Linked DNA regions of Homo sapiens: regions 2 and 3 are each linked to region 1. The links come from fine-mapping of genetic effects on gene expression. A gene starts in region 1. Each other region holds a variant in brackets. All regions are shown on one strand. Distances are between the middles of the regions.

Region 1 (2,769 bases):
AATTCTCTCTTCCACCTCACCGAGGTAGCTGTCATACCTGGAACACTCTTTATTCTTAACCTCGCCTGCTTTTCTTTCCCGTGGGCTCCTCTTCCCCTCTGCTGGCTGCCAAGGAGAAGCACATTTACTGGCATTAGCCCCCAAACAGATGCTTGCCTCGCTCCCTTCCCCCTTCCTCTTTCAGCCAAACCATCACTTGCCAAGGGCTGGTGGTTGCTGCCCCCCCTGTCCACTGCCTCGCACTGCTACAGCTCCAGTCCTTTCTGGCAGCCTCCTCTGAAGTTCCCTGCCCGCGTTCGCCCGTGCTTCTTGCCAGCCGCCTCCCCCTCTTGCCTGCAGCTCTCCTAGCTCCCGCCAGCCTCTCCCCCGCTCGGTCTGCGAGCAGCCTCTTCCTCCCGCCCTTGCCAGCTGCTTTACTCGCCTTTCCTCAGGCTGCTTCTTCTCCTTCTTTCCCCAACCCTTCCCCTGGCTCCCGCAGCCGGTTTCTTTCCAGCGCCCCCATCCCTCTCATCGGATGTTTTGTTAACACCCAGGACCATCTCTCCCGGGTCCCACTGTGCGCGTGTGTCCACCGTTCACTTGGAAAGTGAGCGTTTTCATCCCGCTTCTGTATTTGTCTAGTCCGCCACCAAAACCCTGTGCCTACTCCTCAAGCCTGGAAGGCGGAATGTAGCTATGGTAGAGGGGATTCAGGAAGACACCAGGCCACAGGCTCGGGACCCCAACAAAGTTTTGGACGTTCGGGATTTGCTATCTCAGTCTTCCCAAACTTGGTCAGCCCCGGCCACCGACCCGAGCCACCCAGGGGCGCTCAGTGACCAGGCGCTCCTCTGATTCCCAGCGCCCCTATTCTTCCAGGGCCGCTTCCTCAGGAATGCCGACCGCTCTCCAGGACCAGGGTTGGGCCGCTCCCCAGGCCCCACTAGGGTCCGCAGCCTGAGCCCCACCCAGCTCATGGCTGGAGAGGGGCGCACTCGTTTTTAGATGCGAGGCGGCAGGGTGGGCGGGAAGAAAGAATGGAGCCGCCCAAGTTCCTGGGTGCCTGCCTCGGGGATGCGGGATGGGAGATACTGTCGAAGAGCTGTGCTCAAACCAGGGCCCTTGTCGCGGGCTGGATACCTCCGGTGCGCCCTACCGTAGTGGGGAATCCTTTATGAGCCGTCTCCTTTAAGAAGCGCGCGTGCGTGTGTGTCGGGCTGTGTGTATGCGCGCGTGTGTGTGTGTGTGTCGCGGTGTGTCTCTGTGTGTGTGTGTGTGTGTGTGTGTGTGCGCGCGCGCGCGCGCGCCAAGGGCCCCGAGAGCCAGGCAGACCCCGGGAAGGAGGAGTTATGTAGATTACGGATGAACATTCTGGAGGGGAGCGAGGAGAGGAGGGAAGGAGAAGCAGAGGCGAGAGAGTGAGGAGCGGCGGAGGCCCTTCCCGCAGGAGCTGGGGGCGGCGGCGGCGGCGGAGGAGGAGGAGGAGTAGGCAGTGCAGGAGGAGGACGCACGGGCTGGAGGCGGCGGCGGCGGCGGCGGCTGCTGCTGCTGCGGCTGCGACTAGGCTCTTTGAGCCGGAACCGCCGGTGAACTTAGGCGCCACGTTCCCGGTGACTGACCCCGGAGGATGGTGAACAGGAACTACTGCTGACCCTGTCTTCGCCGCTGCCTCTCGGGGGCTGCCGAGCGCGGGGCCCCTGTCTCCTCCCCTTGCCCGGCTGTGGGTGAACCTGCAGGCTCCTTACCCACCCGGAGGACTTTTTTTTGAAAGGAAACGAGGGAGGGAGGGAGAGGGAGAGAGGGAGAAAACGAAGGGGAGCTCGTCCATCCATTGAAGCACAGTTCACTATGATCTTACTCACATTCAGCACTGGAAGACGGTTGGATTTCGTGCATCATTCGGGGGTGTTTTTCTTGCAAACCTTGCTTTGGATTTTATGTGCTACAGTCTGCGGAACGGAGCAGTATTTCAATGTGGAGGTAAGAGTGCGAGGGCTTTCTTCCTCCCCCCGCTGCCTGGGCTGCTCCCTGAAACATTTCCTTCACTCCTGGGATCCTTGTAGCTCAGAGCAGCCTGGGTCCCAGCACGTTGTTTCCCTTCCAGCTGTGGAGACCCTGGTTCAGTTTAAGGGTGTTTTAGGTGACGGATGCGTGTGAGACCCAGAATCCGTTATCCCCGGCAGCACAAAGCACGATGCTGCGCGCTCAAAGACACAATTGTAGCCGGTCCATGCTTTTCACCCAGGGAAGAGAAGTCCTACATATAGCAACCGTGTAGCTAAATAAGGCAGCTTGAGTTTATGATGGATAAACAGCTCGGGGAAGACAGAATTAATTCCCTGGCATCATGTGCTGCCTAGGTATTGTTCCTGAAATCTTTCTCCCAGTGTTTGGTGCCTAACAAAGGAGGTTAAAAATCAAAGAATCTAGAGGAGAGCGTGGGAACACTAGATGTGTTTAATAACATTACTTTGTGATAAAACACTTGAGAATCTTTTTTTTTTTCATTTAGACATAACTTAATACACTGTAACTAGATCTGGCTACACAGAGGACATGAAATCCATCTCTTTTTAAGTGTCTTCTTTCCCCCTCCCCCGCCAATTGAAAATAAACGTGGCCCAATGTAATAGTTTTGAGGTGTGTTTTTAATTTGATTTCACACTCTCGTGGCAAAACGGGGAGGTTTTAGACTGTCATTTGCTTTACTTTGATAGCTTTGGGAACAGACGGCACAAAGCAAAAGGGAACTTAAGGATAGGGACTTGTCAGACCTCTGCCAAAGTACTC
Region 2 (2,769 bases), 460 kb before region 1:
AAGAAAGACAAGAAAAGGGGAACAAATCAGGGAATTCAAAACTGTTTTGTTTCTTGGGTCCTGAAATCCCTATGTCATCTGTTGTTTTTGCTATACACTTCAAAGTCTTCCCATTTTTTTTATTAAGTGTTGTCACTGCCATTTAACGAAACAAATAAGGAAAAGTATGTTTATCTTATATTTCTAGAAGTAGATATCTGATGTAACACTTTTTGGTCAGCATTATTTAGGTATGCTTTTAATGCAATAAAATATATTGAAATTTACAATTTGGTGAAATTGTATATTTGAAAAATATATGCACACACACATTTAGATATTGGTTTCAGCAGCACTGAACTTCTTAATACCAAAAATCTGTATTGGTTTACTAGGGATGTCATCACAAATTACGATAAAGCAGGTAGCTTAAAAAAAATAAATGTATCTTCTTACATTTCTGGAGGCCAGATGTCCAAAACAAGGTGTGAGCAGGGCCATAATCTCTCTTATTACAAAAGCACATGTCATTGGATTTCAGGCCCACCCTAAATTCAGTATTATTTCATATCAAGATCTTTAAATGATAGAAAAACATAAGTAATTTTTTTAAATGTTCCAAAATTTTAAAACAAACTTCTAAATAACTTCTGATTCAAAGAAGAAATCATAAAGAAAATTAGAAATATTTTGAGCTGAAAGAAAACACACAAAAAAGCCTGATATATCACACTTTTGAAATAGAGCTAAACCAGTGCTTAGATGAAAGTTTGTAACATTGAACACAAATATTAGGAACAGATAAAAGAAATTAATGGCCCAAGTTTCCACCTTAAACTAGAAAAAGAATAATAGATTATATAAAAAGTAAACAGAATGAGAGAAATAATATAGATAAGAATATAAATCAATGAAATAGAAAATGAGAAGGTAATTTTTAAAATATTTTAAAATATTGTTCTTGGAGAAGATTAATTTAAAAACAGATTTATCTGGGTTTTAGAAAACAATAGGGAAGACATGAATTATAAATATAAAAAAGGAGAGATAGTGCATCACTAGACTCCTAGAGGTAGTAAATAGACATATGATAAACAACTGTATGCCAATATATGTGATAACAGAGATAAATTGGACAAAGTCCTTGAAAGACATAAAGTTCCAAATTCACACCAATGGAAATAGATAAACAAAATAGCTTTACATGTGTGAAGGAAACTTGGTTTGTAAGTAAAAATCTTTCCACGTAAATAAGTAGTTCTAGGTAAATTCATTGATAAATTCTATTCAGTATTTCAGAAAGATATGCTCCCAATTCTACCCAGACATTTTATAAATTATTCTATGAGACAAGCATTACCCTGATATGAAATCAGGAAATAACATTACAAGAATACAAAACTCCAAATCAATATCATTTCTGAACATAGATGTAAAAATCCTTAACAAATTGAACTTAATGACATGACAATATTACACCATGATCAAGTATGGTTTACTTCAGGAGTATGAGATTGGTTTAATATTTTAAAATCAATCTATGTCTTTCACTCTATTAACAAAAGTTTTAAAAAGAAATAAAAAAGTCAAAATGATGAACTCAATAAATGTAGAAAAAACATTTAACCA[A/C]ATTTAACACCCATTTATTTTTAAAACTCTTAGCAAATTAAAAATGTGTGGGTTTTTTTCCAGAACATCTACAAAAAAAAAAAAAACTTATCAAAAACAAAACACCAGAAACTACAGTTAGCATCATACTTAATGATGAAAAATGAAATGTTTCTCTTTAGGATTGGAGATCAAAAAAAAGTGCATTTGCTTTGACATATTTTACTCAGTATCTTATTGAAAGTTTTAGACAAATGCAGTAAAAAAAAAAAGTTAAAAAAATACTTATTGGAAAGCAAAAAACAAAACTTTCTTCATTAACATTTATTCACTCTGTAGAAAGTCCTGAGACATATAAAAAAAATCTTCAAGGAGTATTAAATAAATTTAGCAAGGCTGCAGGATAAAAGGTGAACATAGAATGACCAACTGCACTTCTCTTTTTAATAATGAAAACATAGACATTAAAACATTTTAATATTATTTATAATGGCTTACAAAATATGACTTGTAAATGAATTCAAGAAGAGATAATTCTGTTTTTTTAATATATTGCTGCAGTGATTATATTTGTGTAATAATTTCTGTTCACCCTTGTGTTTGTAAAAAAAAATACATTTCTAGAAGTGGAAGCACAAGTTGAGCACATTTTAAGTTTTTGATACATTCAGCCAAAAATTCTTCCATAAATATAATTTGTTAATGTAAAATTCTGTCAGTATCTATAAGAGTGACTCTTTCTTCATACTACTGTCAACATTAGATATTAGCAGTGGCATATTTTTAATGATATTTGCAAATATGATAAGTGTTATAGGTTGTATTATGCCCCCTCAAAATTCATATGTTGGAGTCCTAAACTCCAGTACCTCAAAATGTGACCTTGCTTGAAGATAGGTTTGTTGCAGATGTAACTAGTTACGTTAAGATGATGTCATACTGTTCATACCATTTTCTTTGATACATATAATTTTAATAAACTTTATTATTGGTCTTAATAATCAATAGAGTCTCTTGGTTTAGATACAAAGTTGTTGAACTTTCTGTGATAAAAGATCATTGTATTTACATTTTTTACTTCCTTTTAGATATCAATACGTGGCACTTTCATTCAGATAACATTTGCCACAACTGTAGGTATTGATGCCTGCATTCTCCTCTGCGCATGAGCTCCATGGTGGT
Region 3 (2,769 bases), 33 kb before region 1:
GGGATTACATGCACCTACCACCACGCCTAGCTAATTTTTTTTTTTTTTTGTATTTTTAGTAGAGACGGGGTTTCACCATCTTGGCCAGGCTGGTCTTGAACTCCTGACCTCGTGATCCACCTGCCTCAGCCTCCCAAAGTGCTGGGATTACAGGCGTGAGCCACCACGCCCAGCAAACCTTTAGATTTTCATCTTAAAAAGATAATTCTGCTACCGTGGGGAAGTGACTAATATAAGAATGAGACGAATTATCATCAGAACAATCTCCTAGAAGTGCCTGTGGAATTTAAATGAATAGTGATGGAGACCTAAGTTAGGAAAATAACAGTGGAAAGGTAAAGGTGGACATAGATTTTTTGCAGGAGCGATTGAGGAGAGAAAAAAAACCCTCAGACCTGAGAAAAGAACTACTAGAAAGCTGTAGATACACAATTCTCAGTGCTCATACAAGGATAAAACAGTTCATGTTCTACTAGTCAGAGTAGAGAGACTTAGACCAGGCATTAATGTCTTCAGAAGCCTTAAACTTTAGTATTGGGCTTAAATTAGTGCCAGAATAAAGGCTGCTCTTGACACATCATAACAAAGTTAAGGAATGCTTAGAAAGGATCAAGTTGAAAGCCAGAGAAAAAAGCCTACATTTTATTTTTTTTTAATTAAACAAAATTCAACATCCATCAATGGCAGTATCCAACTAAAACTAACCACATATGCAAACAATCAGGAAAACATAACCAAAAACCGGGAGAAAAGTTAACCAAAAGAAAAATCAGTCAATAGAAATGGAAAAAGAAATTGATCATAAAGGATGTTAAAACAACTGTTCTCTCTCTATATATAAATATGTTAATGGAAAAGATGAACATAATAATGGGAAAATAGAAGAAATAGAAAAAAAATAAAGCTCTAAATGGAATTTTTATTGATGAAAAACATGTGAAATAAAAAATACATAGCAAGGGATTAACTATAGATTAAATACTACAGAAGAAAAGATCAGTTAACCCGATGACATAACCATATAAACAATTCCAAATATAGCACAGAAAAAAATACTGAAAAAGAATGATAAACAGAACCTCAACAAAGAGAGAAAAGATAGCTAATGGTCTAACCTAGGTATA[A/G]TTAGAGACCCAGGAAGAGAAGGTGGGGAAGAGGGTAAAAATACTTGAATAAATAATGTCCAAAACTTTTTCAAATGTGATGAAAACTCAAATTCACAGCTATAAGATCCTTGGACCCCAAGCAAAAACAAAACTGAACAACAACAACAACAAAAAAAGAAAATCACCCTAAGCCAGAAATTAGATGAAACTATTGTAAGCTGCCAGTTTATAGGACAAAGACAAGAGAATTCTTCTCAGAACAATGCAGCAAGAAAACAATGAAATATATCCTTAAATTTCTGAAAAATACAGAATATTATAACATTGATATAGAAAATTATGCAAAGGCTTTTTAGACCAAAAAAATCTAACAGAACTTAGATCTGGAAAAGTGGTACTACAAGGAAGAACTTCAGAAAAATTGTAAATGATACCAGACTGGAATTAGGATCTACATGAAGAAATAAAACCCACAAGGTAGGTTAAATATATGAGTAAACATAATCTTTTTTTTTACAAAAATGTTAGTACCTTTAATAAACAACTGACTGTTTAAAAAATGCACTGTATAATTTGTGACTTGTATATAAAATTGTATGACAAACTAACAAAGACAATGGAAAGATAAATGAAAGTACACTGTTGTGATGTTTTTATACACACATGATTGGTGTAATATTATTTCAGAGTAGGCTAAGCTAAGTTAAATATTGGCATGGCTAATGACCTGCTACGGTTTAAATATTTTTCCCTCCAAAACTCAGGTTGAAATTTTATCTCCAATGTGGCAGTATTGAGAGGTAAGGCCTTTAGGAGATGACTAGGTCATAAGGGCTCTGCCCTCATGAATGGATGAATCAATTCATGAATTAATAGATTAATGGATTATTATGGGAGCAGGACTGGTGGCTTTATAACAAGAGGAAGAAAGATCTGATCTAGCATGTTCAGCATGCCCACCATGTGATAACCTGCACAACCATGAAACTTTGCAGAGTCCACACTAGCAAGAATGCCGTCACCAGATGCAGTTCCTCAACCATGGACTTTGCAGCCCTCGTAACTGGAAGAAATAAATTCCTTTTCTTTATAAATTACTAGTTTCAGGTATTCATTATAAGCAACAAAAACCTAACTAAGACATGAACCAATAGTGGAGACAAATGATTCAATAAAACATATTCAATTCATTAATAAGTCAATGAGAAAAGAGGCAAAATGGAATGAATAACAGATTACTCAATATAAAAAGGAAAATACACAATTTTAAAAATGGGCAAAGATCTGAATAGACATTTTCCAAAGAAGATATACAAATGACCCTAAATCACACTGACTGTTGCTCAAAGTCAACAGCTATCAGGAAATGTAAATGAAAACCAAAATGAGACACCACTTCACACCAAGTAGGGTGGCTACACATATAAGAAAACGAAAAATAACAACTGTTGACAAAGATGTGCAAAAGTTGGAATCCTCATCCTCCTATACTGCTGGTGGGAATGTCAAATGGTGGAGCTGCTTTGCAAAATAGTGTGGCAGTTTATCAAAGGGTTAAACATGGAAATAGCATATGATCCAGCAATTCCACTCCTAGATATATACCCAAAAGAAATGAAAACACATGTGCCCACAAAACTTGTACACAAATATTCACAGCAGC

Direction of the effects. Positions count from the first base shown, and alleles are read on the strand shown. Sizes are in standard deviations (SD) of each study's normalised expression. Not every link is listed here.
For the expression in tibial nerve of the gene that starts at base 1,551 in region 1, G is the low allele of the variant in region 3 and A is the other (small effect, 0.38 SD a copy in GTEx).

What was found. PIP is the estimated chance that this variant, and not a neighbour inherited with it, causes the effect.
Region 2: its variant is the best candidate, but not a certain one, in a credible set for the expression of MMP16 in ileum (GTEx, PIP 0.54).
Region 3: its variant is the best candidate, but not a certain one, in a credible set for the expression of MMP16 in tibial nerve (GTEx, PIP 0.75).

Annotation. Positions count from the first base shown.
Region 1 is chr8:88,326,265-88,329,033 of GRCh38, reverse strand. It overlaps MMP16 (matrix metallopeptidase 16), which reads left to right and starts at 1,551. Exons shown (of 10, transcript NM_005941.5): 1 at 1,551-1,959. The coding sequence starts at 1,828. It overlaps LOC105375630 (a long non-coding RNA gene), which reads right to left and starts at 1,190. Exons shown (of 8, transcript XR_001745653.3): 1 at 1,136-1,190; 2 at 1-105.
Region 2 is chr8:88,789,115-88,791,883 of GRCh38, reverse strand. All of the region lies in intron 3 of LOC105375630 (a long non-coding RNA gene), which reads right to left. Among named protein-coding and RNA genes, the nearest start is that of MMP16, 460 kb to the right of the region's middle. The variant A/C (reference allele first, on the strand shown) is at 1,609.
Region 3 is chr8:88,359,163-88,361,931 of GRCh38, reverse strand. All of the region lies in intron 2 of LOC105375630 (a long non-coding RNA gene), which reads right to left. Among named protein-coding and RNA genes, the nearest start is that of MMP16, 33 kb to the right of the region's middle. The variant A/G (reference allele first, on the strand shown) is at 1,125.